2 linked regions of the Homo sapiens genome follow. The protein of the gene in region 2 interacts with the protein of the main gene of each other region in a pairwise test. Each region holds a gene or a part of one and is shown on either strand. Other genes may lie near its edges.

Region 1 (3,754 bases), on a different chromosome or scaffold from region 2:
ATCTCATGAATTTCAGATTCTGATTTAGTGTAGCTAGGCAATTTCTAGCATATTGCAAGTATCAACATTCTGTTAATGTGACTGGGCACAGTGGCTTACACCTATAATCCCAGCATTTTGGGAGGCTGAGGCAGGCGGATCATTTGAGGTCAGGAGTTCAAAACCAGCCTGGCCAACCTGGTGAAATCCCTTCTCTACAAAAAAATACAAAAAAAAATTAGCCCAGCATGATGGTGGGTGCCTGTAATCCCAGCTACTTGGAAGGCTGAGGCAGGAGAATCGCTTGAACTTGGGAGGCGGAAGTTGCAGTGAGCCAAGGTCATACCACTACACTCCAGCCTGGGTGACAGAGCAAGACTCTCTCTCAAAAAAAAAAAAAAAGAAACCCAACATTTTATTGTTACTTTAAAAAATGTATTCAGTGGAATCTAGGTACTATGGCAATTTAATACCTACCATTAGCTATTGGTAAAAAATACATGGAAAGCTTTTCTCTCCCCTCCCCCGCTCTTGCCCTCCCCTCTCTTGCCCCTCCCCGTCCCTTCCCCCGCTCGCTCTGTTGCCTGGAGCTGAGTGCCATGGTGCCATCTCAGCTCACTGTAACCACCTACTCCCAGGTTCAAGTGGTTCTCCTACTTCAGCCTCCCAAGTAGTTGGGACTACAGACGCGTGCCACCACACCTGGCTAATTTTTGTATTTTTAGTAGAGACGGGGTTCACCATGTTGGTCAGGCTGGTCTCGAACTCCTGACCTGAAGTGATCTTGCCCGCCTTGGCCTCCCAAAGTGCTGGGATTACAGGCGTGAGCCACCGCGCCTGGCCCGCTTCTCTTTAATAATCAATAATTTTATGTCTTTCATTTTTCTCCTTTCATTCATATCAACATTCTACTTCTCTCACAGAATTTCATCTTACTGCTTCCCTCCCCTGTACCCCCGAGATGGAGTCTCGCTCTGTTGCCCAGGCTGGAGTGTAGTGGTGCCATTTCGACTCATTACAACCTCCGCCTCCCAGGTTCAAGTGATTCTCCTGCCTCAGCCTCCTGAGTGCCTGGGATTACAGACCCCCACCACCACGCCTGTCTAATTTTTGTATTTTTAGTAGAGATGGGGTTTCACCATGTTGGCCAGGCTGGTCTTGAACTCGTGACCTCAGGTGATCTACCTGCCTTGGCCTCACAGAGTGCTGGGATTACAGGTGTGAGCCACCGTGTCCGGACTACATTTTTATGCTTAAAAGCTTTTTAAAATTAGTCATTATAATTCTCTGCAACAAAACTACGTGTATACATTGAAAATTAAAAAGTTTTTCTGCGCTCTTAATATTCTGAGAGTTTAAGAAAATTATGATTGAGACATCATTACAGTGAAAATTAATACACAGTACATCAAAGCAAATGTATCTCATTTTGATTAAACACAGCAAGTAAAATTTGTTGGAAATGTATCTTTAAGTGTGCGGATGAGACTTTTGCTCTATTAGTTTAATTACCCATGGACAAATATTGCCAGCCTGAAACAGCTTTTAATGTCCACTTTAAGAACTTCATTCATTTAAATAAGTTGGGGACTAGAAGGGGTTTTGTCATAGCAGCATCACGCCACTCTCAGGCCCTTTTGCATTCCATGTCGGAAGCCTCAGTTCCTAAGACTCACTGGTAGTGATCTCTGCAGAAGAGTGGAGATGCAGTGAGTCGAGGAAAAATGAAGCATTTCCTCTTCTCTGCTGTGGGAGTCGACAGTGGGGGACGGGGGTGCACACATGCCACACCAGGCAATGCCTAAGAAACTTCTCGTTCACCCCGTTCACACCTGTTGCCCCCACAGAGCCGATGATGAGCACCCCACCTCCTGCCAGCGAGCTCCCGCAGCCACAGCCGCAGCCGCAGGCCCTGCACTACGCGCTGGCCAACGCACAGCAGGTGCAGATCCACCAGATCGGAGAAGACGGACAGGTGCAAGTAGTACGTACCCTCTCCACCTCACACCTTGGGAAAGGGGGCTGCGGGGTGGGCCACGGCAGGGCCATGGCGGCTTCCACCGGTTCCGCTGTGTTTTGGGAGCACAGTGATAGCTTGGGAGGAGGCACAAGGTCCCCATTTAAAGTAGAGGTCATCGTGGCCATGAGCTCTTAACATTTCACAGGTGGGGGCGGCTGCTGCAGAGCCTAGGGATTGAAGCACATGGTGGGGTGGGGCATTCAGTCAGCTCACCTCAGTCCTGCCAGCAGGCAGGCGGGCAGTCAGCTCCAAGGGTCAGGCCGTGCGGTGGTCCCTGCCCCAGCTCGTGCTCCTGGGAAACATCGGAAATATTTCTCAGTTCAGAAGTGCAGGCGCTCTCTTACTGAGGGAAAGAGTAATTTCCTTCTAGGATCAGTGGCAAAAGCTTGAGGTCATTGTTCCCATGCAGCGTGTCCCTTGGAGTTACTCAGCACACCCAGGTTGGGCGGGCACTGTCCCAGCAGCAAGTCAATGTCCTGCCTTGCCCGTGCGGAGTTCTCTATTGGGGTTTTGTGACCCAAGCTGTGGTCAGCCTGATGCGCCTAGGGGCTTGCTCCCGGGTGAAGTCCCTCTACAAACACCTCCTGGATTCTGTGGCATGAGAGTAGGGCGTGGCTGAGAAGGAAGGAAGACTTTTCTGGAAGCTTTGCTGAGTGACTAGAAATTTTACATGCACCACTAGACCTCGCCTATGTTTTTAGTGGCACCAGCCCCCTTGGGCCCTCTGAAGACAGGTCATCGTGTGCCTCCGTGTCACCAGGGCTTTCTCCTGGAAACATGGTCCTCCACTATTGAGAGTGGGGCGTGGCTCTCATCTCAGTGTGGCTTCAGCATGCTGTCTGGAAGAGGGAAGGCTTCCGGAAAATTCTGGGGCTTTTAGAGGGGGCGTTACCCTTCCTCTTCCAAAGGAGATGAGACAGTTATGAATAGTGAATCTTATTTAATAAGCTTATTAATTTGTTTGACATTCACAACGGCAGTTCCTCTCATCTTGTTAGTAAGAAGTTCTTTGAAAGCGTTCCAGAGTAGATAACTTTGTCATAAGGCTTACATAGAACATTCTACAGGAGTTTATTTTAAGATCCATTTCGACTAAGAGAGAATTTCAAATAAGATAAGGAGTATTCGTTTCATTTACAGGTTTATAGGAATTATTTGTCTGCCCATATGTATAAACAGTGGATTCTTTGATTTTTTTTGAATCACATTTATTAGTGTTTACTGAAACTGTCTAAATAGTCATATGAGTGTTTCTTTGATTTGAAAAACGTTGCCTGCCCTGTTGTGAGTGTAGGCACGCCAACAGCTCCCCTGCTTCAGCCACACACTGCGTAGCCTCCCAGTATCCCCAGAGAGCTGAACGTATCATTTGAAAAGAGGTGTCATTGTGATTTTCTATTTCCCCTCTTTTCTGTGTGTCATGCACATTTTAAAATTTACTTGTTTAGTAACATTTAAAGATGTAAATATCTTTCCTGGGACCTATTGCTCCTTTGTGAAGTGCTGGAAAATGTTCTGTGTTACACAGCAGCCCCCCCTTACCCATGCTTCCACTTTCCCAGGCTTTAATTACCCATAGTCAACTGTGATCTGAAAATATTAGATGAGAAACTCCAGAAATAAACAATTTGTAAGTTTCAGATTACATACTCTTCTGAGTAGTAGCATGATGAAGTCTGGTCGTCCTGCTCTGTCCAGCCCGGGACGTGAGTCGTTCCTTTGTCCAGCATGTCCAAGCTGTGTGGCACATATGGG
Region 2 (3,754 bases):
TTCAAGACAAGTAACCATGAAGTTGAGAAATTACAGTACTTTCTTGACTGCCTGGAAGCCAAAAATAAAAGAAAAGTAGCAAGAATTAGTTTTTAACATCCCTTTTACAACATCAAAAAAGGTTACTTAGGGATACACACACACACACACACACACACACACACACACAAAACATTTAGATTTTATAGATGAGGCCTAATTTTGCATACATGGTCAAGTAGTTTTATAAAGTCCTGATTCATGTACTACTAATATCACCAATTTAGGAATTAATAAAACTAGTAAAATCAAAGAATATCAAAATGACTTAACTGATTAAGCCTGAAGTTTTACAGAAATATAAAATGAAATCCCTTTTAACTTTAGCAATGGAGTAGAGGTAAAATACAGTTGTAATAACTTATTTTTTAACCCTATACTATAATGTATTATATTTTACAAAAACAGTGACTGTGACACATCAGAATCTATGTAATAGTCAAATGGTTTCTAACGATCAAGAAATACACTGGGAGATGAATGTCAAGAAGCCATTACTTCCACATAAAATATTTTACCACCACGAGGCTTTGAAATGCAAAATAAATCACAGGTACTATTTCTAAATTATCTGCCATCAGAACCATCAGTCCACTGGATTCTGAACTGCAGTCACAGCTCTTCTTGGACTTTATATAATTTGACAACAGTGTACAGTTCTAAACATGTATAAATAAACAGAATATCAAAGCAGCAGAAAAAAATTGGCTTTTGTTAAGTACTAATCTAACTGTGCTTGGGATTAAAATGGCGTAATTTCTAATTCTCATGAAAATATAAGGCAAAAATTCTATTATCACTATTCAACATTTACTAAGCATGCCCTCAATGCCCATCTAACAAAAACTTTTTAGAAGATAGAAATTACATATAAAATATAAGATGCTTGAGATGCTTCCATACTACTTATTTTCAAAATAAGCCAAATTATATATGAGTGTACCCATCTACATGCTCAGTATAATGAATGTTCTATGCACGCACATGCTAACACAAAAGGTAAGAAATTCTTCAATTGACTCAGAGTTCCCCAAATATGGTATGTATGACTAACAGCTGAGAGGAAATACAACTGAAACTGTCTGCTGGAAATCCATTAAAATCTAGGCACAGAAAAATGCCTGGTTGATAGTATAGTTGGATGTGCAAATTTATGCAGGAATGTAGCCAAATCTTTGGCAATTCCCTCATGGTCTTAGATTTATTAACAATAGCCCTTTCTTTTTCAGCTGTAATGTTACATTTAAAGAACATTAGTGGAGTTGGAGGACCTGCCTGGTCTTTAAAACAAATAGACTAAAGGCTTGGGTATACAGAGTCATGGAATTTCAAATACAAACAAAAATTTGCACAAAAAAAGTATGCTCCACAAAAGCTTCCATATGCAACTCTCAAAAATCAGTACCTTAGAAAAAACAAGCATACTATTTTGCAATTCTTTCTACATTTGCCTTTGAACGTATTCATTATTTTAAAAATTTTTCTGCAAAAATGATTTGTATCATCTTCTCTGAAATGAGTGTTATTAAAAGACTTCATAGGTTAAGACATATCCTCTTAATATACTACTTCACGGATTTATTTTCAGTATTTGCTTGTTGTTAGGAGTAAATTAAGTACTTAACTCTTACAAGTCATTTAACAACCACATTTGATTCTTGTTACTCTGTACTGAGCCCCTTCTATGCTCTCAATTCTGTGGAATGTTGTATCAAAAAATGAAAGCATGGTATTTTCTTCTTCAAGAGTTTATAATTCAATATGAGTACAAGTTAAACAAACGTATTCATTCAAAGGCACAAATATTCTACAACCAGTTCTGATTAGTGTGACAATATAAAATAAAATTGTTGACCATTTTGAAGGAAAAGTTCTGTAATTTTTCAGGAGAACAATAATAAGAGGTAAAATTGACACAATACTTTGCAGTTTAAGAAATGATTCTCATTGAATTCCCTGAATCCTCAGAACACCCCATGAGACTCCATGAGTATGATTTCCCATTTTACTGATGAAGAACCTGATATCCAGAAAAGGAAAGAGACTAAACGAAATTTATGCCTAAGTAGTAGAGCAAAGATTCAAACGTAGTTCTCACAGCTAAATCAAGGCTGCCACTGGATTTATAAGTTCTTTCATAAAAGTAATCTAATTTGATCATTATGACAATTTTATTAGATAATAATAGCAGATAATATTCATTGACTGCATATAGTGGGGCAGGTGCTGTTCTATGCTATGTTAATTCATTCATTCCACACAAAACCCTATGAGGAAGGGTTCTGTTATTACTGCTATTTTACAGATGAAGAAACTGAGGCTCAGAGAAACTAGTTAATGTGCTCAAGATCACACAGCCAGTAGGTATGGGCAGCAGAAGTTAAACTCAAGAGCTTCTGGTTGCAGCGTTAATAATGTTCTTCACCACCAGCTCACTCTTAGGTACGTTAACCTACAACAGGTTAAGAAACTTGCCCAAAGTCACAAGGAAAAAAAATTGCAGAAAACGGGCAAGAAGAATGTCTCCTAACTCTTCACCCTAGTTCCTTTTTCTAAGTAGAATAATGAAAATCATTACATCCAGAAGCGGTAAAAAGCTTTGGGACATGTAGGTAGTTCTTTGAAGCAGAATATGAGCAAGTAAGGAAACACTGGTGGAGTAGCAAGGAGAAAAGATTCCATCAGGCCAAAGAAGGCTTCTTCTCCACAGATTGAAGGGAAAAGAGAGTAAAATGTATGTGACCAGGGATAAGTACATTTGTTATTCTGATTTAGGGAGGACAAATTCAGATGAGTGAAGAGGGATGGCTCTAATTAAGAAAGTTAGTAAAAGTGAAGCACTACACTGATTTGTTTTGAAAGAAACACCACCAAAAATCTTGGAATAGGTATTGTAATGCTTTCAAAAGAAATGATACCCCCACCACAGCCAAAAGTATCTAGCACACAGAAGAAAATAAGAGAAGCACTGAAAGATTCTAACTACACATTTTCATTTTTTTAAATTAAAATGTCACTTATAGTTTAGCAATTCCTTTTCATTGTTAAAACCTTTCTGTGGAGTAGAGACTAAGAGAACATAATTAACATAATATTCTTCTCATTAGTTTTCATACCATGATTCTATGGTGCTGGTTACTTTATAGATCTTTCTCAGAATCATGTCAAAATCAGATGAAGGAAATTAAAACAACAACCCATGTGAATGGATAAACTAAAATACCAACCTAAACCTAAAATGCATGTTAAAAGTAGAATTTGCAATAAATATGGAAAAACTAATCATGGCAGAGACCGAAAGCAATGATGCCAGGATTTTGGTAAGAAGCACTTTTGAAAAGACATATTAAATGAGGAAAACTAAACCTAATGGAATTTCTTCTCTCATTACTTAAAATAAACCAGGTCACTGAGATGAGCGTACACTATGGTATTTTGTTCATTTTCATTTCATTTTTATACCATAAATTCCCATGGAAATACCTCAGACACGTGCCCACAATAATTGGAATGCCTAACATTTCAGCGTAAGTACTTTTGCATGAGTTCTACTAAATAAAAAGAATGCAGTGAGAGCCCTCCAAGTTTTTTGGTTATGTCAACAGCTATTTTACGAGTATGAATTATCTCTGTACCTATAAACTACATGTGTAAAATACATTACATGAGTCTGTGTGAAGCCTTAATGCGAAGACCAAGGTCTGAGCTGCACACA

What was found.
Region 1: the proteins of CAMK2D (region 2) and BANP interact in binary tests that used the Homo sapiens proteins (3 or more experiments, as listed by UniProt).

What each region holds. Positions count from the first base shown.
Region 1 is NC_000016.10:88,031,283-88,035,036, forward strand, and holds part of BANP (protein BANP), read left to right. Parts: intron 1-1,826; coding exon 1,827-1,963; intron 1,964-3,754. UniProt on the Homo sapiens protein: Controls V(D)J recombination during T-cell development by repressing T-cell receptor (TCR) beta enhancer function. Binds to scaffold/matrix attachment region beta (S/MARbeta), an ATC-rich DNA sequence located upstream of the TCR beta enhancer.
Region 2 is NC_000004.12:113,755,040-113,758,793, forward strand, and holds part of CAMK2D (calcium/calmodulin-dependent protein kinase type II subunit delta), read right to left. Parts: intron 52-3,754; coding exon of another isoform or gene 2-51; exon of another isoform or gene 1-1. UniProt on the Homo sapiens protein: Calcium/calmodulin-dependent protein kinase involved in the regulation of Ca(2+) homeostatis and excitation-contraction coupling (ECC) in heart by targeting ion channels, transporters and accessory proteins involved in Ca(2+) influx into the myocyte, Ca(2+) release from the sarcoplasmic reticulum (SR), SR Ca(2+) uptake and Na(+) and K(+) channel transport.